Regions from separate parts of the Homo sapiens genome. Here regions 1, 2, 3 and 4 are each linked to region 5. Evidence: fine-mapped expression QTL. A gene starts in region 5. Each other region holds a variant in brackets. All regions are shown on one strand. Distances are from middle to middle.

The links. PIP is the estimated chance that this variant, and not a neighbour inherited with it, causes the effect.
Region 1: its variant is fine-mapped to the expression of DNHD1 in whole blood (TOPMed, PIP 0.95).
Region 2: its variant is fine-mapped to the expression of DNHD1 in whole blood (TOPMed, PIP 0.98).
Region 3: its variant is fine-mapped to the expression of DNHD1 in whole blood (TOPMed, PIP 0.96).
Region 4: its variant is fine-mapped to the expression of DNHD1 in whole blood (INTERVAL, PIP above 0.99).

Annotation. Positions count from the first base shown.
Region 1 is chr11:6,402,081-6,407,208 of GRCh38, reverse strand. APBB1 (amyloid beta precursor protein binding family B member 1) reads left to right here. Exons shown (of 15, transcript NM_001164.5): 3 at 3,387-3,562; 4 at 3,665-3,721; 5 at 3,805-3,890; 6 at 4,001-4,064; 7 at 4,484-4,633; 8 at 5,000-5,127. Among named protein-coding and RNA genes, the nearest start is that of SMPD1, 14 kb to the right of the region's middle. RefSeq lists a silencer at 1,596-1,890. The variant T/C (reference allele first, on the strand shown) is at 3,069.
Region 2 is chr11:6,533,477-6,538,579 of GRCh38, reverse strand. DNHD1 (dynein heavy chain domain 1) reads right to left here. Exons shown (of 43, transcript NM_144666.3): 14 at 4,407-4,899; 15 at 70-197. Among named protein-coding and RNA genes, the nearest start is that of DNHD1, 39 kb to the right of the region's middle. The variant T/C (reference allele first, on the strand shown) is at 3,080.
Region 3 is chr11:6,473,875-6,479,002 of GRCh38, reverse strand. It overlaps TRIM3 (tripartite motif containing 3), which reads left to right and starts at 5,062. Exons shown (of 12, transcript NM_033278.4): 1 at 5,062-5,128. ARFIP2 (ARF interacting protein 2) reads left to right here. Exons shown (of 8, transcript NM_001376558.2): 5 at 44-265; 6 at 805-962; 7 at 1,111-1,285; 8 at 1,735-2,484. The coding sequence ends at 1,890. RefSeq lists a silencer at 4,936-5,128 and an enhancer at 4,523-5,128. The variant G/A (reference allele first, on the strand shown) is at 2,059.
Region 4 is chr11:6,526,371-6,531,498 of GRCh38, reverse strand. It overlaps DNHD1 (dynein heavy chain domain 1), which reads right to left. Exons shown (of 43, transcript NM_144666.3): 11 at 2,712-2,977; 12 at 2,378-2,621. Among named protein-coding and RNA genes, the nearest start is that of DNHD1, 32 kb to the right of the region's middle. The variant C/ACACACC (reference allele first, on the strand shown) is at 3,095.
Region 5 is chr11:6,495,223-6,500,222 of GRCh38, reverse strand. It overlaps DNHD1 (dynein heavy chain domain 1), which reads right to left and starts at 2,943. Exons shown (of 43, transcript NM_144666.3): 1 at 2,892-2,943; 2 at 2,556-2,638; 3 at 1,262-2,452. The coding sequence starts at 2,007.

The DNA.
Region 1 (5,128 bases), 93 kb after region 5:
CCAGGAAAGGGGCCAAGTCACTCTTTTACAACTGTGTTGCTATGACCATGAGGGCTGCAGAGAAGGTTTGTGCTCCTGCAGAAATGAGGCTAGAATTGAGCAAAAATTATATTCTCCTTCCTATTGTAGGATATTCATAGAGCTATGGATTGAATGCATAAATGCATGAATTCATGAATTAAATGAATGATGAATGAATAAACTTTACTACCTGTATTGAATTCATACTCTGCTCCAGGCCTTATCGTAAATGCTGGAAATGTATACTATGGGGCAAAGATGTTCTTACCTCCTGGCCTTCACAGCCTGGTGAGGAGACAAAGAAAGAAACAAGTGGTTATGATCAGTGCGATGAGCTCTCTGGGGCTGGGGAAGTACAGGAGGGGCCCCTGACCCTGCCTGTGAGAGTGGTGGGGGAGAGGGCAATGGGTCAGTTTTAAGAAGGGACCTGTATACTGATGTCTGAAGGAGAGGTAGGTGATAGCCAGGTGAAAATCGAGAGTAAGGGAGGTGGGCTGGGAGAGGACAAGGGGGCATGTCCCAAGCAAAGAGAGAGAAGGGGAGTGGCTGGAGGTAAGGCTGAGAGGCAGACAGGGGTTCATGACAGCACATAAAACCTGGGGAGGAATTTGGACTTTATCCTGAGGGCAGTGACAAAACAATTAAGAGGATTCCGTTGGAAAATTACTTGATTAGTTTAGCATCTCAGAAGAATCATTTGGGCTGTACTGTGCAGCTGAGATTGGAGGAGACCAGATAGGAAGAGAAAGACCAGTTATGATGTTTTTGCAATGATGCAGGTTAAAAAAAAAAAAGCTAGTAGCCTGGGCTATGTTAGTTATGTGGGGTGGAGAGAAGGGGAAAGCTTTAAGTCAATCACTGATTCCTGAGCAAGTGAGTACACCTGGCTTCACCACTAAGGCATTTGTGGATGAACGAATGAAGGAAGGAAGGAATGATACGTGAACATTTAATGTATTTTATATGTAAGTGTCGCATGAATCGATGCAGGAGTGAAGGTGTGCGTTCTGGAATAAATGCATGTGTGTGAAAGCAAAGGCCGGGGTGGGCTGCGCTTGGAGGGAGATGTGCCAAGCTCCAGAAGGGCCTCCCAGATGGCCAAGGGGGGAGAAACTGCCCTTCCAGGACAGATCGGAAGGATGAAGCTCTTTGAAGCAGGAAGGTACAGGCTGACAGGGATGGCAGATGGATTGGTGTGTGTGACTCAGTCAGGAGATGGTGAACTGGTCCCCAGATTCCAGAAGTGTCCAGCCAGCCCTCATGAAGCAGGCTGTGGCTGTGGAGGGCATGGAGGCCCTAGGGTGCTGTTCCTGGAAGGTTTTAGCAGGAGAGTCCTGAGGCAATGGAGGGTCTCTAGGGAACAGCAGGTATTCCCTGAGCCTCAGCTAAGTTTCAGGTGCCTATTGAAAACCTTATTCCATAGAGTGTGAGTTAGGGGGAAGTGGGGGTGAGGAGAGGCGGTGATGGCTGCCTAGAAGGTGGATGGGCAAGAGCCCCTCCTCTTTGGGTGTCTGTGGGCCCACGTCATTTGGAAGCTGAGGATGGTGAAGCACCCTGCCTGAATAACTCTCGTCAGGTGTGCAGCCACCTTGGCGTAACCACGCCCACTCCCAGCCCTGCTGTGTCTGGTTGCCCAGCAGCAGGGTCTTGGGACTGCCTGTCCCTTAGTACTGCCTCTTGGACCAGTCAGGATTCCTGGTTTCCCTGGTAACGGGAAGCACGTCAGCAGTCTGGGCGCTCCCAGCCGGTCCTGGTGCTGCGGTTGCCGAGGAGACGCTGCAGCCTAGCTGGGCCCTGGCAGGTGAGGGGTGGGGGGTGGTGCTGGGAAGCCCCAAGCCCAGCCTCAAGCTTGCTGGGGCTCAGGACCTCAAAGCCCACCCTTGGGTTCAAACTGCTGTGCAGGTCCTGGACAGGGGCGGGATCCCTGAAGGCCTTGAAACCACACCCTATTTATGCTGACAGCTATAGGCTCTGCAGGGCCCCAGGCAGCTGGGGTATTCCTTAGGGGCTGAGTCTCCTGGTATCCCTAAGACTGGGCTTGGCTTAGGCACTGAGGTAACCACTGGAGGGTGGGATGGAGATTCAGGATTGGGGGAGGGGAGCCAGGGCGAGGAAGAAGAGGTGTGAGCAGAAGGGGCTGGGGTCTCATGAACCTCCCTTTCTCCTCCCTTCCCCACCCCCCAAGGAGATTCCCTAGCATGGTGGTCCTGGCCCCTCCCTAGCAAGCTCCAAGCGGGGGAGGATCTTGCCTGGCAGACGCTCTGCCCTGGTGAGAAGGGGGCGGGATGAGCTTTTCTCTGCAGCCCAGCACCAGGCTGTGAGCCCAGCTGGCTGGGCTGGAGGGGCTGTGAGGAGGGAGGGTGGAGGCAGGAGGGGCCGGGAATGAGCGCCATGTTCTCCCAGGACTTTTTCCTGGCCATTATCCTGCAGGACAGCAGCGCAGGTGAGGGGCAGCATGAGGTTGGGCCTCATGTGGGGTGGGGCTGACAGGGAGAGAAGAGTTAGAGGACGCATGAGCGGGTTACAGGGTTGGAGTGGTGTGGCTCTGCCGGCAGACAAGGGTGTATGACACAGATGCGAGGTATGTGTGTATGTGCATGACATGTTTGCTTGCATCTGTGTGCAGCAAGGGTCAGGAAGTGAGCGTCTGTGGTGTCTGCACACATTTGGCAGGGTTTGACGTGTGCCGTGTGTCTGAGTGTGGGTCCGCCTGTGTGTGTGGTACCCACACGTGTGTTGGGGCCATTGTGGTGTGGTATCTGCACACCTGTGTGGCAGGGGCTCGTATGTTTAGCTGCATGCACACACACCTCTGTGGTGTCTGCATAAGTGTATGGCTAAAGTTTGTGTGTGTGTGCCCCTGCACATACATGTGCACCTGTGTGTGATACCTGCCATCTGTGCTGGCATTTTCTGTGTTGCATACCCTGGTGTTTGTGGCTGCACAGGTGTGTGGTAGGGCTTGTATGTGTTGTGTGTCTGTGTATACATGTACGTGTGCAGGAGCTAGAAAGTGTTCACCTTCGTGTTAACTGAGATAATAGATA[T/C]GTATGAAAGGAGGTTAATTGGGGTCACCCAACATTCATTGCTCCCTTCCTTCTTCCCTCCCTGCCTTCCTCCTTTCCACAGTGTGGCCACATTAGCCACCAACAGGGCCCAGGAGGAGACCTGAGCCATGTCCCCTACTGGTGGCCCCACATGTGGTGACTCCAGACTATAGGCTCTAGGCAGAAGCAGGAACTGTGTTGTGGTATAGCTCTTCCACCACCCCTTCTCAACCATGGGGTCTCAGAGGGGACCGGGCATAGGCACCAGCTGTCTGCTCTTTGGGTAGGCTGACCCTCACCAAGCCTCCCACCTGGCAGATTCCTTCTGGAACCCCAACGCCTTCGAGACGGATTCCGACCTGCCGGCTGGATGGATGAGGGTCCAGGACACCTCAGGGACCTATTACTGGCACATCCCAACAGGGACCACCCAGTGGGAACCCCCCGGCCGGGCCTCCCCCTCACAGGGGAGCAGCCCCCAAGAGGAGTCCCAGGTGAGGCTCACAGGCCTGTTGATTTTGGGCCAGGGGTGGAGGGAGTGTGTGCTGCTGGAGTAGGATAGGACACTCACTCACTACTCCCATCCCTCCTCCTAGCTCACCTGGACAGGTTTTGCTCATGGAGAAGGCTTTGAGGATGGAGAATTTTGGAAGGTGGGTAAGGGGACCTGCTTTACCACGGGATAGCTGGAGGAGGGGCATCATTTTGATACTGATTCCTCAATCCCCTTCCCAAGGATGAACCCAGTGATGAGGCCCCAATGGAGCTGGGACTGAAGGAACCTGAGGAGGGGACGTTGACCTTCCCAGCTCAGAGCCTCAGGTGAGCTGCCAGATGCAGTGAGCTGGCAGTGGGATGGATCTGTCTGGAAGGGGCCTTGGGACAGCTCCATTTATGGGAGCCCTGTGCCAAGTATTACCATCTGCCTTCAGCCCAGAGCCGTTGCCCCAAGAGGAGGAGAAGCTTCCCCCACGGAATACCAACCCAGGGATCAAGGTTTGTTCAAGACTGACACCCATTCTGAGTCTGGGGCCCTCTTATTTGTCAGACAGCCCCTAATGTTGTGCTCTGAGGGGTCTCAGCGCAGTTCCCCAGGTCCTGAGTTAGGAGTTCTTCCAGTCTCAGCACAGAGCCCTGTGTCTGAGCTGGAGGCACTTCAGTTTTTAAATCAACCAGCCCAACAGCCAGGTTGGGGGCCCTTGTAGTCTTAGTTCAGGTGCTTTTTTGTACTAGCTGGGGTCTCATCTGACATCTCCCTCACCCTAACCACATCCCCCTCTCCCTAACCACATCCTGTTTGGGGAGCTTCTCCGTCTTAGTTCAGAACACCCTGCCTCCTGCCACACTCTGTAGTCAGGAACTCTCCAGTTTTGACTCAGATCCTCTACCTCCTGCCCCTCTTCTGTGTCTGGCAGTGTTTCGCCGTGCGCTCCCTAGGCTGGGTAGAGATGACCGAGGAGGAGCTGGCCCCTGGACGCAGCAGTGTGGCAGTCAACAATTGCATCCGTCAGCTCTCTTACCACAAAAACAACCTGCATGACCCCATGTCTGGGGGCTGGGGGGAAGTAAGGACCTGAGCCGGGGGTAGGGGGTGGTACTGTGAGAGTGTGAAGGGAATTATGAGAGATGGGAGGTCTGACCTGCCCACAAGCAGGCTGGGGAAGGGGGATATTGGCCCATCCTAAGTGGCAGCCCTGTGGGATGGATGAGCGACCCCAGGCCAGGACCTTGGGAGATAGTCGCCTAACAACGGTGGAGTCAATGTGAGAGATGACACGTGACCTCCACTAGAGTGAGGCCTGCAGGGCGGGCGGTCTGACACCAAAGCAGGGGCCCCAGAGCTGTGGCTAACATCCCCTGAGCTGCAGGGGTCAGAGATCAGCCACCATCCTGGCTGGAGTCCCACTGAGTGCCTGCTTCTGGTCCTGCAGGGAAAGGATCTGCTACTGCAGCTGGAGGATGAGACACTAAAGCTAGTGGAGCCACAGAGCCAGGCACTGCTGCACGCCCAACCCATCATCAGCATCCGCGTGTGGGGCGTCGGGCGGGACAGTGGAAGG
Region 2 (5,103 bases), 38 kb before region 5:
ACTCTTCCCCTCCCCCACCACTGTAGTCCTCCACTCCCAGTCAAGAGCTCCAAGGAAGGGTGTCAGCACCTTGGCAAAAGCCATGCACTTCCACTCGCTGATGTTTTCGGAGATGACTCGGTACAGGTGCCATATGCGCTGCTGCTGCACAATAGGACGTGTCCCACAGATTGGCAAGGGCACAGGAGTCTCATCCTCTGTGGGGGAGGGCTGACTTGAGACCTGGGCTACTTGCAGTGTTGGGAGGGGGGTGGTGGAATGATCAGTCAAGAGCCCATAATGACAGAAGGTAGGGTCCAGAAAGTGATGGTTGGGGGTGGGGGAGGTGGAGTTCCAAATTGTTTGGCTCAACAATGGAGGTGGGGTTAATCCAAGGAACAGTTACTCCAGGGAAAGACCATCTGGGAAAATGTGATGGCAGTGAAAGGGAAGAGTTCCTCTTTAATTAGTCTCCATCTCATTCACTCCATTCTAGTGACACTGGACGCTTTACTATGGCTGAGATGCACCAGATATGCACCCTCCTGCTAAGGGCCTTTGACTAGCAGTCTATTCTTTCTGGAACACTCTTCCTTCAGAGAATCACATGGCTCATGCCCTCACCAGCTTCAAGTCCTTGTTCAAACAAACAGCATCTTCTTTTTTTTTTGAGACAGAGTCTTGCACTGTTACCTGGGCTGGTGTGCAGTGGCGTGATCTCGGCTCACTGCAACCTCTGCCTCCCGGGTTCAAGTGATTCTCCTGCCTCAGCCTCCCAAGTAGCTGGGAATACAGGCGCACACCACCATGTCAGGCTAATTTTTGTATTTTTAGTAGAGACAGGGTTTCACTATGTTGGCCAGGCTTGTCTCGAACTCCTGACCTCGTGATCCGCCCGCCTCGGCCTCCCAAAGTGCTGGGATTATAGGCATGAGCCATTGCGCCTAGCCAGACAGCACCTTCTTAATGAGGCCTATGCAGGCTATCTGGTTAAAAATTCCTAGCTACCCTTCCCGGCATTTTCAACCCCTCTTACTCTGTTCTATTTTTTTTTTTTCTCTATCACTTATCACTTTCTTATATACTACAGAATTTGGTTATCATCATTGTTTATTGTCTTTCTCTCCCAACTAGAAGTTTGGGTCCATTAAGAAAAGCATTTTATCATTTGTTCACTGATGTACCTCAAGCCTAGTGTACACAGCAGTCTCTCAACAAATATGTGTTGAATGAATGAATGAATGAATGAGCGAATGAACTGTCAGCCCAAAAGAAAGTTCAGCAAGATGAATATAAAAAAGATCTGGCCCACATAGAGGACCTGTCATGTTTACCTCCGGCCATTATCCTCCACCCCTTCATCTCACAGGGTACTACATTAGTTCTTAATCAGTTACTTATAGTCAGTTGTGAGATAAGTGTCAATAGGAATTTATAATTAACAATAATTATAATATCGAGGTTTGCAATTTACTTAAAAGACAACAGATATCTCATTAACTTGAACTCCAGTTTACTTTCTTGAGTGGGACAAAAAGTGATAGAGTCACACCCAAATGCTGGGCCTCATGCATCTTACACATGTGCACATCATCCATTTTGGAGATCTCAGAGTATTAAAAAGCTGGAATCACTAGGCTATCAAAGCTCTGATCTGACAAAAAGTAAAATGACAGTAAATCTAAACTCTTCCAGTCTTTGTCTAAACTCAAAGATATGGCTAGAGTCCCATACAATCTTTGACAGCAGTTGTTTCAACATCAAATATTAGACAAATAAACAACTTCATCTGTAAGAAAGAGCAGAGATATCATCTCCAAACACATGAAAAGATAAAGACAAACTGGGGATTAAGAGCAAATGTCCTTTGACAGACATTTTGTGATATCTACTTGATAATTTCCATGCATTTTAAAACTTTTTATCTGAAAATGAGTTCCAATCTTCAAAGTTGTAGGAAAAAGTAGTAAAAAAAAATTGTGTACCTTCTATCTTCCATAGGTATAGATATATATCTATACTGTTTATCTTTGCCTTTTGTTGACATTTTACCCATTTGCTTTATCATTTGCATTCACATGCTCTGTGCATGGGCATGTGTATGCACATATACACACACACAATTTTTTTTTCTGAACTATTTAAGGGCAAGTTACATAAATACTCAAGTATGCATTTCCTAAGAGTAGGGATATTCTTTTATATAACCACAGTGCAATTCCAAATTTCATATATTATATTGATACAATATTTTAATCTACTGTCCATATTTCAGTTTTGTCAGTTGACCTAATAATGTCCTAGATTGCATTTTTTGCCTCAATTATAGCATCTGGTCCAGGGTCAAGCACTGCATTTGTCATGTCTCTTAGTTTCTTTTAATCTGGAACATTTCCATAGCCTTTCTTTCTTTTGTAACAGACATCTTTGAAGTATACAGTCCCCTTTTGCCATTTTTTTTGTTCATAGAAAGTTCCTCATGTTGTGTTTTTATGGTTTTTAAAAATGATACTCATTCTCAGCTGGACTACTACATAAGTGATATTGTATCCTTCCTTCTCCAGTATCACATCTGAAGGCAGATCATGTCCCTATGTCCTTCATTGGTGATGTTAATTTTTAATCACCTGGTCAAATTATTGTCTGATTTCTCCACTAATTGTTGTTTCTTTTTCTTTCTTTCTTTTTTTTTACAACAAATAAGTGATCTCTGGGAGAAACTCTCAAAGACAGTGCAAATATTCTGCTCCTCATCAAATTTGCCCTAGATTTGGCATCTGTTGATCCTTATCTGATCTGGTAATTACCATGATGGTTGCAAAATAATAATTTTCCCACTCCAGCCTTCCTTCCACATTTATGCCAGTCAGCTCCTGGCATTTTACTGTAAGCATGAGTCCTCATTTCTCTCTCATTATCTATTTATTATTACTACGCATAATAAATGCCTTTACTTCAATAGCTTAGAATTTATTATTGTACTTACTTTGGTGATCAAATTGTTCCAGATTTAGCCAGTTGGTATCCCTTCTGAATCCTTGTGATATGCTCCCATCACTTTTTTAAACACTTTAATACTTTCTTACTTTCTGGTATAAAA[T/C]GACACTTTAGGTTCATCTTGTACCTACCCTGCCACAGCCCTGGAATCATCCATTTCTCTAAGGAGCTCTGGTTCCTTTTAATGGGGAATGGTGTTTGTTAGAAACTAAGACCTGAGCACAATGTGGCTTCTTGCTACTGGGGTTTCTTTGCTTCATGTCCTCTTCAGCAGATAGAGATAGCAAATGTGTGCACATGTATATACACATAAACACACAGTTACATGCGTATACATGTGTACATAAGCATGCATACACATGCAAAATGTGTGTTTTAAAATGCAATAGAAATACAAAGTGATACCATAGGAAATGGAAGCTTATAAAACAAGCTCACAACATTTTTCCAGAACTCAGAGAAAAAGAATAAAGGAATGACTGATGATAAAGAAGATAAAAGCAATGAGTGAGAGAGATTCAGTAAATCCAACATACATATAAGAATTCTGGAAGGAAGGCCAGGCGCAGTGGCTTACACCTGTAATCCCAGTGCTTTGGGAGGCTGTGGCAGAAGGACTGCCTGAGTCCAGGAGTTCAAGACCAGCCTGAGCAACAAAGTGAGTCCTCATCTCTACAAAAAATACAAAAATTAGCCAGGCATGGTGGCACACACCTGTAGTCCCAGCTACTCAGGAGGCTGAGATGGGAGGATTGCTTGAGCCTGGGAGGCTGAGGCTGCAGTGAGCTGTGATCATGACACTGCACTCTAGCCTGAGATCCTGTCTCCATTGTTTGGTAATGGCTCTTATATTTGCTCTGGTCTCCTTCCAGAGCCCACAGAGTTCTTTAAGAACAGAAGGGAACCAGCTTACCTGCACCACTGTATGAAAGAATTGAGACCAATAGTTCTGTCCTGGCCTCCTCCTGTGTATTAGTGAGGCCCTCAGTAGCCTCCTCTCTATACCACACTGGCTGGAGGAAGTGATCTGCTAGAGCATCAAGACCTACTCTTGTTCGGGGCCTGCTGCCTGGTGTAGGACTGTGTTGAACAGGGCTACAAAAAGGCTACGTTCTATAAGGAGAACTTACATTTCTCCCACACATGCTTTTAGCCCCTGACCCCATCACATTCTGATGGAACATTCACTTGTTTGCCTTCCTTACCAGACTGTGAGCCCCCATACCCCCACCCTAAGCACAACACCTGCCATGGTCAATATATGATGTTTTTGTCCTGAAATTTTCATTTATAAAAGACACCAGTGAAGGTGTGTGATTCCCAAGGCTTGCTTGGGGTCATACAGGACACAGAACCCTGAGTTCCAACTCTTACTTCAGTTGAAGGGTCTATCACAGAGTGATAATGGAGGGTGCAGGGATCCTCAGTACCAGTGAAGATGGCATAGGCGTGGTGCAGTTCACTGAGGTCGCTGACTGTGTTCTGGAACTGACGCTCTAGGGAGACGAGCTGGTGCTCAGTACTCCTCTGATCTTGTGTGGGGTCCATAAAGGGACCGGAGAGGGCCTTCGCAAGCAGGCCTTCCAGCTCTGCCAATGCTGCTGCCATCAGCTGCTGCAGCTTGGGCATAATGGCATGTCGCTTGCTGAGCAGGAACTCTGAAGCCTGGCTTTTCTCAAACTGAAATGCCTCCCACATATCCAGAAGCTGTGGGGCAAGCAGAGGGCAGTGGAGTAGATGTGGTTGTGGGGGAGGAGGGCAGGGAGGGATGGGTGACTCCCCGAATTGCCTTCTCACCGAGATGTCCAGTGCTTCATTCTCAGCACTAAAGAGGCTAAAGTGGTTGCGGATGAGTTCGTGGAGTGCCCGTACGTATTCCATTCGCTCCTCCAGCTCGACGTACTGTTCATTGGCTTCATTCAACTGCAGGAATTACAGCATGAGACCGGCAGCCCCACAACCCCATGTACCTCTTTGGTCCCATCCCCAAGGGGAACTCCCACCTTTTGGAGTGAAGTCTCCAGACCCAGTTGCAGCCTTGTAATCAACTGGAATCAGGGGCAATCTCTCCTGAGGGATCTCTCCAGAGGGATCAAATCTCTCTCTGACCCAGATCTCTCTGGTGAA
Region 3 (5,128 bases), 21 kb after region 5:
AGGCTGTTAGGGTCTCTGATTTATTCCCCCATTTCCCAATCAGTGCACAAAGCAACTGTTATCAGAACGATTTGGTCGAGGCTCACGGACTGTGGACCTGGAGCTAGAGCTGCAGATTGAGTTGCTGCGTGAGACGAAGCGCAAGTATGAGAGTGTCCTGCAGCTGGGCCGGGCACTGACAGCCCACCTCTACAGCCTGCTGCAGACCCAGCATGCACTGGGTGATGCCTTTGCTGACCTCAGCCAGAAGTCCCCAGAGCTTCAGGTGCCTCACCCAGACCAAAGAGGGTGGGGGAACTGGGCATGGGCCCTCCCAGGCAGTCATTCCTCATCCTCCCTCCCTCCTGCAGCCCACAGGGAGAACCCCTTCAGGGTGGGCCCAGCCCTACCCCCAGCAGCACTCACCTGTGGAGGCAGCCTAAGGGTTTGTACAGAGGTCCAGAAGTTGGAGGGGGTGGGGGAGGGGGCACACTAGGTGCCTCACAAATAACCCCTCTCTGCACTGGGGAGAATGCCTTCGTGCTCAGCCTAATCAGAGCCCCTCCCCTGCTTGCCACACTAGCTCTCAGACTGTTCCAGTCTTGTGAACTTACCCAAGAATGCCCACCACCCACATTCCTACCCCAGGTATCCCCAGGGTGATCCCACTAACTTTCCGGCTAAGAGAGCCTTGCTGGAGGCAGTCCTTGGTTGTTCCAGTTTTGCTGGCTGTGTCCTCCCCGGGGAGGAGGGGAATGAAGGGCTCTACAGCTTCAGTCAGGTAGGGAGTGTTATTCAAGGTCTGTTCCTCCCTTCTGCCCTCAGGAGGAATTTGGCTACAATGCAGAGACACAGAAACTACTATGCAAGAATGGGGAAACGCTGCTAGGAGCCGTGAACTTCTTTGTCTCTAGCATCAACACATTGGTCACCAAGACCATGGAAGACACGCTCATGACTGTGAAACAGTATGAGGCTGCCAGGTGTGGGCACTGGCAGGGCTTAGGGTTTGGGGAGTTGGCTGGTATGGGTGGAAATTTGGGCATTAGGGGCATAAGAATTCAGGAAGGAAAGGAGAGTATGTGTTGAGGATAAAGGAGTGGAGACCAGCCTTTATCACCCCCTCCCCAGGCTGGAATATGATGCCTACCGAACAGACTTAGAGGAGCTGAGTCTAGGCCCCCGGGATGCAGGGACACGTGGTCGACTTGAGAGTGCCCAGGCCACTTTCCAGGCCCATCGGGACAAGTATGAGAAGCTGCGGGGAGATGTGGCCATCAAGCTCAAGTTCCTGGAAGAAAACAAGGTGCCAACCCCACCCCCTTGACCCTAGCCCACCTTTCCATCTGTAACACTAACCTTCCCCTCAGACCCTCCCCATTATTGAATGAGGAAATGCAGCCTAGCTGGGGAGTAGAGTGTTCACCCCCTCAACCCCTGGGCCTTTCCAGATCACCCTCCCTCCAATTCCTGGCCCTTTCCTGTTGGAGGATTTGGCTGCTGGTCCCAGGAACATAACTGGGAAAAATCACCCCCTGAGCTGGGGTACAAAAACCCTAGGCCCACAAATCCAGTGAGGTTTCTTCCATCATACTGACCCTTCTCCTTTGACTCCCTGGGTAGAGTTCAGCCCCTACCCCAAAAGCACCATCAGAGCAGAGTCCTTGTGCCCCTGGTCTGTGCCTGGGCTCAGGCTCATAGACCCTCAAGAAGGGCGCCTGAGTCCAGCCTTAGCTGACCCTGCTGGACCCCCAGATCAAGGTGATGCACAAGCAGCTGCTGCTCTTCCACAATGCTGTGTCCGCCTACTTTGCTGGGAACCAGAAACAGCTGGAGCAGACCCTGCAGCAGTTCAACATCAAGCTGCGGCCTCCAGGAGCTGAGAAACCCTCCTGGCTAGAGGAGCAGTGAGCTGCTCCCAGCCCAACTTGGCTATCAAGAAAGACATTGGGAAGGGCAGCCCCAGGGTGTGGGAGATTGGACATGGTACATCCTTTGTCACTTGCCCTCTGGCTTGGGCTCCTTTTTCTGGCTGGGGCCTGACACCAGTTTTGCCCACATTGCTATGGTGGGAAGAGG[G/A]CCTGGAGGCCCAGAAGTTGCTGCCCTGTCTATCTTCCTGGCCACAGGGCTTCATTCCCAGATCTTTTCCTTCCACTTCACAGCCAACGGCTATGACAAAACCACTCCCTGGCCAATGGCATCACTCTTCAGGCTGGGGTGTGCTCCCTGACCAATGACAGAGCCTGAAAATGCCCTGTCAGCCAATGGCAGCTCTTCTCGGACTCCCCTGGGCCAATGATGTTGCGTCTAATACCCTTTGTCTCTCCTCTATGCGTGCCCATTGCAGAGAAGGGGACTGGGACCAAAGGGGTGGGGATAATGGGGAGCCCCATTGCTGGCCTTGCATCTGAATAGGCCTACCCTCACCCACCCACCCAGTTTAATTGTGCTTAGAGCCCAAGAAGATTGGGATCTAGCACTAGGAATAAACCTTTCATAAAAGCAGGCCCAGCGAGGTCAATTTGTCGGGGACTCTAGGAGGGTGGCCTGGGTGGAGACAAGCTCAGTCTAATCAAACACCAGAACCCTATCAAGTCAAAAGAGCTGGGGCCAGGCAGCTGAAGTCACAGGTTTCAGAGATGGTTTGAAGGCCCAGTCTTCTCTCCCAGCCTCAGTTGGAGCCAAAGCTTTGTCCTTTAGCCAGCACCAAGATAGCTATGGATCTTAAGAGCACCAGATCCAGAGGGGGTTGGGTTTGCTGACCTTCATCATGCATTCATTCATACAGCAAATATTTACTGAGTGCTTTCATTTGCCAGGGACTGCGTTAGGCCCTGGGGAAACATCAGTGAATAAAACACGGTCCCTGCCCACAGTGCTTAGGGCCTACTGAGGGAAAGAAGTAACCAGGCAACTACAAAACAGTGATAAGTATTAGGATACAGAAGTACAGAGGGCGCTGTGGGAGCACAAAGGAGGGGCATCTGGCATGGACTGGGGTGGAAATGGGGATGTCAGTTTGAAAGCTGAGACCTGGCCAGGTGCGGTGGCTCACTCCTGTAATCCCAGCACTTTGGGAGGCCGAGGCGGGCGGATCACCAGGTCAGGAGATCAAGACCATCCTGGCTAACACGGTGAAAACCCATCTCTACTAAAAATGCAAGAAAATTAGCCCGGCACGGTGGCTGGCGCCTGTAGTCCTGTAGTCCCAGCTACTCGGGAGGCTGAGGCAGGAGAATGGTGTGAACCCGGGAGGCGGAGCTTGCAGTGGAGCCAAGATTGCGCCACTGCACTCCAGCCTGGGCAACAGAGCGGGACTCCATCTCAAAAAAAAAAAAAAAAAAGCTGAGACCTGAAGGGTGAGTAGATGACAAACAGGCAGGGTAAAGGGAAGAGCATCCCAGGCAGAGAGGCTAGCATATAATGAAGGCTCTGAGTAGGAACTGGGAGGAATTGCTTGGAATGAAAAATGAAGAGGGAGTGGCTAGATGAAGACTGCAGGCTGGTTAAGGACTTTTGCCCTCTGGAGAAGGAGCTGAGAAGTGTTTTAAGCAGAAATTTGACTGCATGGGAGAAGTATAGAGTTGAGAAAAGTAGTCCTCTGAGGCTTAAGATAGTGTCATCTAGACTCCAGTTCCCTCATCTTGGGTAGCATAGTAGCCCCAGCCCAAAACTGCAAGCATGATCCCCGTCTGGGTTTCCTTCACAAGCACTGGAGCATCTTGTGCTATGTGCTGAACTCAGGTGGATAAGAGGTTGAGGCGGTTCCCAAAGCTCCTGCTGCACCCAGGTGTTGAGCCTAAATCTGAACCTTGTGGAGAGGTCACAAGAAAGATCCCTAACAGCACTTTGGTTTAGTCAGGGCTAGGTGTCATCACCTGTATGCCCTTTGGCCAAGGAAACCAGAATTTTTCAGGATTTTCCCCACCTCTGGAAGGCTGGAGGAAGGGGAAGACCCACTCAGCAGATTCCCATAGTGCAGGGATCCTCACAGGCATGACTTTGCCCTTTGTCATGGATACTGCAGCTCCCAGACAGTCTTCTGGGCTTTGATCAGCCTGCAATCATCTGACTAGAGCTTGATTTTTGGGGCAGGGAAGGTGGTCCTTATATGAGCTGCCACTTAATGGGCCACTGGGGATTTTTCAACATGAAAGGTACCGAGTCTCCAAATGCTGGTTGTAGGGCCTAAAAACAGGGCTCAACTCCAGGTTCTGCCACTTTCTAGCTGAGTGATGAGGGCTAACGTCTGGGGAGCAAGATCCCTATTTTTTCCCATTGTAAAATTGGGCTAATAAAAGATGCTACCTACTGACTATTAAATAATATATGTAAAGTGGCTAGTTCTGTGTCGGCACATAATAACCACTCAGTCCCTGTAAACTGTTACAATTATTTTCCACTTGGGGCTGCTTTTTGCACAAGGCGATGATTCTGAGAATTGTCCAGTGTCTTTGGTGTGAGGAAGGGAGTCGCTGGATGGTCTGAACCAGAATTTCCTCAGGAGGGGGCTCCTGAAGCGCCCAAAGCCTAATCAAATCCCCCACCTTTCTACCCCTTAACTCCTTCTCCCAGAGTTCTGGGTACTGCCCTTCTGCCGCCCAGAGATCGTGCTGAGGTACAGACGGTTTCTACGTCTTCCTGGTCAGCCGATAGACTAGCATATTCCATAGGAGCACTCCAAGGAAGCCGGAAAGGGCGCCTCCAGGAGGCAGGCGGCCCAGACAGGCTCCCAGAGTCCGAAATCCCTGCTGCCCCAGCTGCCTTTTCTTGACGGAGTCTCATCTCAATCCCTGAGACCGACTACACCGCCCTTCCCGGAGCCGGAGGCAGCTGGCGGAGATCCGGGATCCGAGATCCGGGATCCGGCTCGCCGGCCCGCCGGCTCCCTAGCAGCACCAAGGAGGCAGCGTCCGCAGGAGGTGGAGGCGTTGGCGGGGGGGCGTGCGGGTGCGGTAGGGGTGGGCAGGCGGGGTGGGCGGGGCCTCCGCGGCGGCGGGCGGGGCGTGGGTGGGTCTTCCCTACTGGAGTCACCCCCTCCCCCGGCCGGTCCGCAGCCCCGCCCCGGCCCCTCCCTCCGGCCTGTGCGGCTAGTCCGGCGGCGGCGCCGGCGCGGGGACAGGCGGAGGCGCGGGCAGGGCCGGGCGGA
Region 4 (5,128 bases), 31 kb before region 5:
AACAGGCAGATGAAGGCAGATGGGAGCTCAACAGTGACACCGTATGGTATAAAGGAGCAATGCATTGATAAAATACCAGGACTCCTTGGGATTAGAAGCTGGAGATGGATAAAAACAGATTTAAGAGATACTTAGGGGGCAGAAGAATGACAAGGATTTGGAGACAGGTTGGATGTAGTAAGGTCAAGGAGAGGGAGGAGTAAAGGGTGACCCCAAGTTTCTGGTGAAGCTAATTCGTCAGAGTGTATAATTACGCCATTTGTTGTTCAAGGGAGTTCAGGAAGAAGAGAAACGACAGAGTTAAGTCAGAGGGTTAGATAAAATTAGATCAGCAAGAAGGATGAGAGTAGATACAAGGGGATAAGGTGAAATGAAAAAAATATTAAGCACCTACTGCATGCCACACTCAATGCTAAGAGTATTGCAAATAATATCTTAGTCATCCTTACTATAACCCTGTGAGTGACTGTGTTATCATGCCCAGCTTACAAATAAAGAAACTAAAACACAGTAATCTGAAGTTACAAAGCAAGTGAAAAACAGACAGGGTTCTAAATCCAGTGCTCATTTCTCTCCACCTGCTCCTCTTAAAGAGACTAGTTGGTCCTGGATTGAGGATCAGGAAGCTAACAAACTAGAACAACAATAAGCTTTCTCAGCAGCAGTGAAGTAAAGCCTGACCAAAACACGGCCAGAGAGAAGACAAAACAATCAAACGTCCTCCCGGTTCCTGCCTTGCCCGCCTGAACCCCCTGTACAAGAGGAGGGAGTTTTAGTGGCCCACTGGATACCTAATGATACATGTGCTTTCATCTGTTGAGAGCCAAGACAGGGAAGGCGAAGCAAGCAGGGCATACAAGCAAACTCTTTCCAGGCCCCAGTGGCTTCTAACCTTCATAAAGAAAGCAGGCCTGGGAAGCCACGGGTCCAACAGGATCTAGTCTTCACAGGAAGTAGATACTATTGGCTATTGCCATCCTTGAGGCTAGGTGAGGAAAGAGAACAACCTCCATATTTCCTAAAAGAACAAATCACTGGCTTCCAAATCTACCCCGCTGTGAGCCTCTCTGTGGCGAACTCCTAGGCTGAGGCACTAGCTAGTACACAATAGCATGAGATATCCTTCCCATGGGAAGGAAGAAAGAAAAGAGGGTAAAAGACTAGGTCATAAGCCAGATTTCTCAGAGACCCAGGGATAGCAACAATTGGGCGTTCAATTAGCAGGGGTAGAAGTGGCAAGAGGAGGGAACCTGAGATGGGTTGAGGAGAAAATAGGTAGTAGAATGGTCTTGAGCCCCACTTTCCACATAGAACTTTGGGAAAGACCACCTTTTAGGGTGTCCCTTGCTAACATGAAACAGTCACAGCAGAGTAGAAATCATACTGTTATGTGTTGTAGTAAAAAGAGGGGCGGATATAATGCTTACCAGTTTCCCACAACTCCCAAATGGCAGGGGATATAGATGATAGCAGAGAATTGATAGCCAGTGGCCTAGATGAAGTTCCTGTGTTGAGGGGCTAGGGACCCTGAAGCAAAAGCCATGGGGGTAGCCAGCCTAAGACAGAGACTGGATGAAGGATTCACTAAAACCCCAAGGATCAGCTATGCCAGCAAATGTTAAGACAAGGACAGGTCAGCAAAGACAGACACTCCAGGTCCCTATTAGTCCAAGAAAACACATCGCAGCTCTACCAGCCCAGGACACAGCAGCACCAGAAGCAGCAATGTCAGGAGGGCAGAGACCAGGCAAGGATGTATCACACCTCAGAAGCCAGCCCACCGGCCTTCCCCAGTACAGGTGGCACCTTGGGAAGGAAAAGGGAGGAAAAGACATTTGAAAGTAAAAACAACCCAGAACTACAGTATAAATTTTCAATTGCCCAGATATCCCAAATAGACTGAATCAGACCAAAAGTGACTGCTTTAAATGAAAGGAGCTTTCTTTAATTGGAAAGGTTACATTCTTTCACTACCAGTAGAAGTTAGGACTACAGAGTAAGACAAGCTCAGTTAGAGAGTAGCTTTTTACATATGCAAATCGTAGTATAAATTTCACTCAGCTACATGCAGAGAGAAAGCACCCTAGATTCCCAAGAATCTCTGTAAAGACACTGAGCTTAGTAGCCCAAGCACAGGAACATGATTCCTAAGGAATACAGGGTATGAGCAGAGCCAAAACAGAGAGGCCGGCCTTTGCAGTGAGCATAGCTTTGATGGCAAAGGAAAGGGCCTGGGACCTCGGGCTTTGGAAGGCTTCATAGGTCCAATAAGAGGCCTGCACCGAAGGTCTCCGGAGGACATTCCAGGACCAAGGCAGGCCATGTGAATAGACATACAGAAAAGGGAAGGAGGAGAGGGAAGAGAAGCAGTACTCACCCATCTCTGCCTGTACATCATGGCAGCTAAGTAGCAGCAACCCGCCTTTTGTGAGCAACTCGATAGGCATACTGGAGACACGGGCCTGCCAAACATTCAGGCGGCTCACCAGCGTCACGTAGTTCTTGATGGGACCACCTCTCATGTCTTCCAGCTTCTGAGGCCCCCAGGATTGCAGGAATTCATAAATGCCTGTTATCCAATGATGTTCCCTGCAGAATTCCTGCACCTTGCACAGCACGCCCTAAGGGCAGACAAGGTGTTTAGGGCAGAGGCATGCGGCTATAATGGGAATTGGTGGGCAGCGCCCTATCCCTTAAACCACTGTTCTCACCTCCAGCAGCACCTGTTGTATATTCAGTGCCTGCTGGATCTTAGGGTTGTTGTCCAGGTCTTCCTCCAGCTGCTTATAATTGTGGGGGAAGTATTGGCCCCGCAGCCGACATCCACGGACCTCCAAGATACCAGCAATTGGGTGAGACTTCCAGGGCCACACCAATCCCACATTCGGGCCACAGAAGATGCTCACAGCATCGCTGGGCTGGCCCTGGAACTTGGGCATCAGAAATTCGTCTTTTGAGTCCTCCTCTTCATCTTCTTCTAGTGGAGCACAGGCCATAATTGTCCGTGAGTACCCTCCAGAGCCCACAAACAATCTTCCTTTCTCCTTGCCCTCAGTGTGTGTACACACACACACACACACACACACACACACAC[C/ACACACC]CATTCGCTGCTCATGAGTGAGTTAACACATACATCTATATCACAAACGTAAAATACTAGACCCATGGAGGGGATTTATTAGTTAGGGTTCATGTGCAAATAACATAATTTACTCTAGCTAGTCTAAGCAGGGAGGGACTTATTACAGAATATTAAATGGGTTGCAGAATAATAGGAGAGCTAAAATACAAAACCACTCAAGGTTGAGCATCTAGGGCTGTGTTCTGCCTGGCAAAATGGGATATCACTGTCACACCATCAACTACAGAACACACTGCCTCTGCTATGATCCACAGAACGGATGGCATACGCCCTGACTCTTTCCCCCTCTTAATTCAATTCTGAATCAAAGTCTTTTGTAGATCTAACTGGTGGATCCTAAATTGTATATGACACCTAGCTGCAGGCGAGTCTGGGAAGTGTAGTTTGTAGTCTCTGGCATCTGCAGAACAGAGGAGTTGCTGGGAATGAATATTGAACATGCCAGTCCTCAGTTATCTGTCTTAGAGAATATTCTTGAACCTAGCCACTCATTAACTCTTTAGGAACTGGTTAATTGACAAGTTTAGTATTTGTGTTAAAACTTCGCACAAAATAAAGGAAAGAATTAAAATGTTCAGAATAAGAGCCATACTATCCACACCCAAACCCTGTAGTACTCCTAGCTGATCTCTTCTCTTCTCCAACTGTACTCACTCTCTAGGAAATCTCATCCAGCTTTATGGCTGTAAGTACCATATATTTGCTCCCAGATTTATCTGTAGCCCAGATCTCTCACTTAACTCCAATCCCATTTAAAGAACTGCCTAATTCACTTCTCTATCTGGATGTCTAACATGCACCTCAAATTTAACAGAGCCAAAATGAACTCTAATTCCTCCCCGCCAAAACTGCAGTCTTCCAACTTCAGTAAATGGAAACTCTGTTCTTCCAGTTTCTCCAGTCAAAATCTTTATAGTCACCTTTGACTCTTTTTCACATACAACACATCCCATTTAAAAATCCTGTTGTCGTTACTTTAAAAATATATCCAGAATCCACCAATTCTCACCACATTGACCACCACCTGCCCTCCTCCCCCAGCCCAAGTCACCATCATCTCTTACTGCATTATTGCAAAAGCCTTCTAACTTTTCTACCTGCATTGGCCCTTGCCTCCTATACTTTACAGTCTCTGCTCCATATAAGAAAAAGAATCATCCTTTAAAAAAAATGCCAGAAGGGATTCTGAGAAGATGATGGCAATGGCAGCATCATTTTGAAATCTCCCCCAAATGCCCACGTAAAAATGACAGAACAATTAGATAATAAAACCAAAAACACAAGGATAGCATTTTTTAACAAATGAGGGCAAGGGATCCTCACAGATCCTAAAATACAAGTAGGTGGGGTCAAACCATCTGCAACCTCAAAACACACATGGCATCACCATTTGTGATGAATGATGCAGAGGGAAACAATGAAGCAACAGATGGACCTAAGAATAAGAAAACCCCCAAACAGTCATCAAGCATTTACTGGGAGGCAGAGGGCCCATTTCAGAACAGCAGGTAAAACTGGAAGGGGGTCTTACCCCCTCCAAGAACAGGTGAGGTAAGGTCTATAGAAGCTTAAGTAATCTATGCCCTGTGTACTCTTGAAACCAAACAGTCAGGGCTCCCTTTTGGGACAGAGCTCGTCATGGAGAAAATGCTGGGAGTAGAATAAGGATTGAGCAGCAATAGAGAAAAAGGAAAAGTCTAGATGAAGGTAGGGGAGGGAAACCAGAAAACCTCAGAAAGTAAGCCATCTTTTTTTAATACAGAAAAACAATAGAAAGTGAAACTTAGAGGTTAGAGAACTATTTTGAACCAAGTCTTCTTTTGAAAGTTAAGAAAAGCTAAAATTTCCAGTTTTCTATGAGCAGTAGAAAAGTATCAGCATCAAACCCCATACCAAGCTTTTATAAGAAAAAAACAAAGCGAGGCATAGAATAAATCCCCAGAGACAATGAAAGCATGTCAAAAACCAGAGCAAAACTATAGCCTATTTCAA
Region 5 (5,000 bases):
AGGCCGAGGTGAGCAGATCACTTGAGACCAGGAGTTGGAAACCTAGCCTGGTCAACATGGCGAAACACTGTCTCTACTGAAAATACAAAAATCAGCTGAGCGTGGTGGCATGAGCCTGTAATCCCAGCTACTCGGGAGGCTGAGGCAAAAGAATCGCTTGAACCTGTGAGGCAGAGGTTGCAGTGAGCCAAGGTCAGGCCACTGCACTCTAGCCTGGGCGACAGAGTGAGACTCTGTTTCAGAAAAAAAAAAAAAAATCGAAAGTTAGAGAACGCTGAGAAGAGAAGGTCTCTGTAAGCATTCTGAAATCCTGTAGAGAGCTCTGATAGCCAGATATTTTAAAAAAGAAAACAATAGGGCCGGGCGCAGTGACTCACGCCTGTAATCCCAGCACTTTGGGAGGCAGAGGTGGGCGGATCATGAGGTCAGGAATTCGAGACCAGCCTGGCCAACATAGTGAAACTCCGTCTCTACTAAAAATATAAAAATTAGCTGAGTATGGTGGCACGTGCCTGTAGTCCCAGCTACTCAGGAGGCTGAGGCAGGAGAATCACTTGAACCCGGGAGGCGGAGGTTGCGGTGAACCGAGACCATGCCGTTGCACTCCAGCCTGGGCGACAGAGTGAGACTCTATCTCAAAAAAGGAAAGAAAGAAAGAAAGAAACAAAAGAAAAATATATCACTCAAGGGGCCAGAGTGCCCACACTGGCAGGGCAAGAAGAAGACTCTGGAAGGGTCAAAATGAAATTCTATCCAGTAGTGCTGCCAACTCCACTCTGCCTTGGAGCCGGTTTAAGTCACATAGACATGTGGGAAGGACACTCGGACACACATTCCCCAGGGGTACCTTGAGGGAAAGACCCAACATCCAGGAATCAACTCACAGTAGGCCCAGGCAATGTTCAGTGATTATGAATGAATTATAGAAAAATAATTAAGGAGACTTCTGACATCATCTAAGAAAAAAACCTGGAAACTGAAAAGTCAAGCTGTTATTCTAAAGCTTTGGCTGCCTCATAGCTGACTTCTGATTTTCATTAATTTCTGTATTTCTCTATGGGGATTAAGACTAACACCACTGGGTTTATTTTGCAGAGAAAAAGGAAGAGGAAAGTAGCCTCACACTAGCTTTGTGTGGAGTTGGGCTAATCCCTGTGATAAACAGAGAGCTGGATCTAAACTTCCAAGTGACCCCAGAGGCACCCATAAAACAGCAACTTTTTCTCCTCTGCTCAAGCCCTAGACTGAGTCCCTCACTTACCTGGTCTCTTTTCTTCCAACAGGCTCCACCTCTGCATTGTCAGTGTCACTGCTTTCATACCGTACAGGGATGTCCGCTGCCAGTGCCAAGGGAAGGAGACTAAGTCCATCCAGCCACACAGCCTCTTCTAGGGCCACCTGAGCACCAACAATGCCCAGGCAGCGCTGTAGCTCAGGCAGTGTCAATGGTCGCAGCCAGGTGGCCAGCTCCTCCTTTACTTGCTGCCTGCTCCACTGGGCCTGCACAAAAGGGCAAGCTGGGCATGGGGGCCTGTGATGGAGCCTCCGCTTCTGGGGACAGCAGTCAGCATGGGAAGCACTGTCTAACAAAGAGCTGTCTGGAGGAAAGGCCTGGACAATGGCACCTAGCAGGTCCAGATGGAGGTGGGTTTGGACCCAGGGTGCCCAGCAGTACAGCTGCTCCAGGAAGGGCAGCAAATCAAGGTGGCCAACTAGCAACTCACGATATGGAGGCAGTAGACCCAGTACTGCATGAAGATAGCGCCAAGCTGCAGGGCTACTGTCCTGCAACACAGCTGAGAACAGAGTTCGGAGCTCAGCTAGCAGGAGTTCCAGCACTGTGGGCTGCTCTGACTCAGTCACTGGCTTCACGAACTGCCTCTGTTTCTGCTGGCAGGCCAAGGGCTGTTCTTTGCTGTCCAAGACACATATGGAGTGCCAAGACTTAAGGGAATCAGATGATGTCTCATCAGAAGACAAACCTACCCTCCTCTCCTCCGGGACCATGAGGAGCTGGGCATTCAACTGCTGTCGAAGTGACCTTGCCCATAGCTCAGGCTCCAACTGCCAGTTCCAGGATGCCAGATGCGGGGCCTCACCTGCATGGGCCAGCCCAGCAGAGGGGCCAGAGAAGGGACCTCAGGCTCTGGGCAGGGGATGGTCAGAGTCAATGGGGTTAGGAGGAAGAAAGGACCTGGGACAGGGAAATAGATGGAGCTACAGAGCAGAGCCAGACCAGCAGAGAGCCTTTCCTGAGACCCTCAGGCCCTCCCTACTGCTTCCCCAAAGACTCTGGTAAGGAGCAGGCCTAAGACAGACGTGAGAGCCCTCCTTGCAGAAGAGTTCCTTCTTACCTCCCAGTACCCTGTCCCCCTCACCTGGCCTAGGGGGGTTAGGAGGCAAGGCAAGGGAAGAGAGCCCGATCTGCTGATGAGGTTTCATTGAAGAGTGCCTGCTGGAGCAGTGAATGAACTTAGACTTGAGTTCCAGTCTGAGGCTCACCCTAATCATAGCCACCCATACACGGAGAGACTCGCACACAGACGTGCAATCACCTGAAGAGGCAAACTGACACACCGACAGAGCTCACTCTGAACCTCGGTCACAGCAAGGAATCTGCACTCGAGCTGGCGATCGCCTGAAAAACGGGTTAACAGGTCGTCACTCGAAGGCAGCAGAGCCCCAGTCCCATGACGTCTTCGCCCACAGCCTAAGGAGGTCGTGAAGACAGAAAGCCGAGGAGCAGGCACAGCAAATGATGGTCAGGATGCAGGTAGGGGAAGACGTTAACAGGCAAAGGAGGGGGCTGGGAGAGCGGGGAAGAGGAGGCGGACTCTGTGGGAGGGGGTCCTAGGGAACAAAGAGAAATGGATCCGGAGCCGAGGACTCACCCGCAGCTCCACCCGCACCCAGCTGTTAGAACCGTTACAAGATTCCAGAAGGACCGAGTCTTTGCCAGGAGCATCCGGGGGAGCCAGAAAGAGGAGGGGCCAGGGTCCGATATGGGCGGGGCCGAGAGGGCAGAGCCCAAGCCTGGAGGGGCAGAACTAGGTTCAACCTGTGGGCTAAGGCTTGCCTGGGACAGGGACCTGTAGAGGACCAGGCGGGGTCTGAACTGCACGTGCAGTACGGTTGACTCGGGAGACTAGCAATCCAGAGGGTGTCGTAAGCAGGTGTTTATATCCATTCGCTGAGTATCTAAACTAGTGCCAGGTCTTTGGTATGTCTTTGGTACTCCCCCATCCCCACCCCCAACGTATCCATCTACCCTATCCCACCTCCCCAAAAGAAGCCCGAATAAAACAAAATCCTTGATCTCAAGGAGCTCAACATCTATTTGGCACGGGGGGAGGGGGATTTTTTGGGGAAGGGCTTATGGAGGGGCTAATTTTTAAAAATTAAGTTGAATGAGGCCGGGCGCGGTGGCTCATGCCTGTAATCCCAGCATTTTGAGAGGCCGAGGCGGGTGGATCACGAGGTCAGGAGATCGAGACCATCCTGGCTAACACGGTGAAACCCTGTCTCTACTAAAAATACAAAAAAATTAGCCGAGCGTGGCGGTGGGCGCCTGTAGTCCCAGCTACTGGGGAGGCTGAGGCAGGAGAATGGCGTGAACCCAGGAGGCGGAGCTTGCAGTGAGCAGAGATCGCGCCACTGCACTCCAGCCTGGGCGACAGAGGGAGACTCTATCTCAAAAAAAAAAAAAAAAAAAAAAAAGTTGATGATTAAAATAAAAAAAGAAATTCAGCCCACCTCTCCTCTGAAATCAGATTAGTATATCCAACTGCCTACTTAATGTCTCCACCTGGAGAGCTTATAGGTATCTCAAACTTAAAATGTCCAAAAGCAGGCTCCTAACCACCCTTTCCCCACCAAAGAAATGCTGCTCCTTTCACTGTCTTTCCCACCTCAGTCAATGGCAAATCCATTCTTTCTGGTTTCTCACACCAAAACCTTGGAGTCAGCTTTGAGACCTCTTCCAAACCCCTTCTTTCTCTTTCCCTCTTCTTTTTCCCTTTCTCTTTCTCTCTCTCCCCCTCCCTCCATAAGTAATCCTTCAGGAAATTCTGCTGGTTGTGCCTTCAGAATATATCCAGAATCCAACTATTTCCCACCATCTTAAGTACTACAACCTTGGTCTAAGCTGCTATCATTTCTCACCTGGGTTTTTCCACAGCCTTTGAACTGTTCTCCTTGCCTCAGATCCTTCTCATGCTTCTCACCATTGCCCCTACAATCCATTCTTTTTAGAGCAGCCAGTGATCCTTTTCAAATATAGGCAGATCCTATAACTCCTCTGCTCATAGCTCACTAATGCCCCCTCATCTAATTCCTTCAGCTGAAGGCCAAAGTCCTATCATGGCCTACAAATTGCTGATAACTGCCTGCTACCTCTGTAGGCTTCTCTCTTCACATTCACACTCTACTACTGCTGTGCCTGAATCACACCAGCCATACCCCCACCTCACAGACTACATACAAGCTGTGCTGTCTGCTTGTGTATCAGTTAGGAGATACACAAGTTATGACTGTTATTTATTTATTTTTTTGTAGAGACAGGGTCTCACTATGTTGCCCAGGCTGGTCTCGAGCCTCTGGCCTCTAGCAATCCTCCCACCTCACCCCTAAAGTGCTGGGATTACAGGCGCGAGCTATTATGCCCGGCTGTGATGGTTAATTTTATTTGTCAATTTGACGGAGCTAAGGGATGCTCAGATAGCTGGTAAAGCATTATTTCTGGGTGTGTCTTTGAGGGTATTCCTGGAAGAGATTAGTATTTGAATAGGTAGACTAAGTAAAGATCATCCTCACCAATGTGGATGGGCATTGTACAATCTGTTGCCTAAACAGAATTTAAACAGGCAGCTGGTGGACTTGCTGTTTTAGCTGAGACATTCATCTTCTGTCCATGGACATCAGTGCTCCTGGTTCTCAGGCCTTCAAACTTGGATTGAATTCCACCACCAGATTTCCTGGTTCTCTAGTTTGTAGACAGCAGA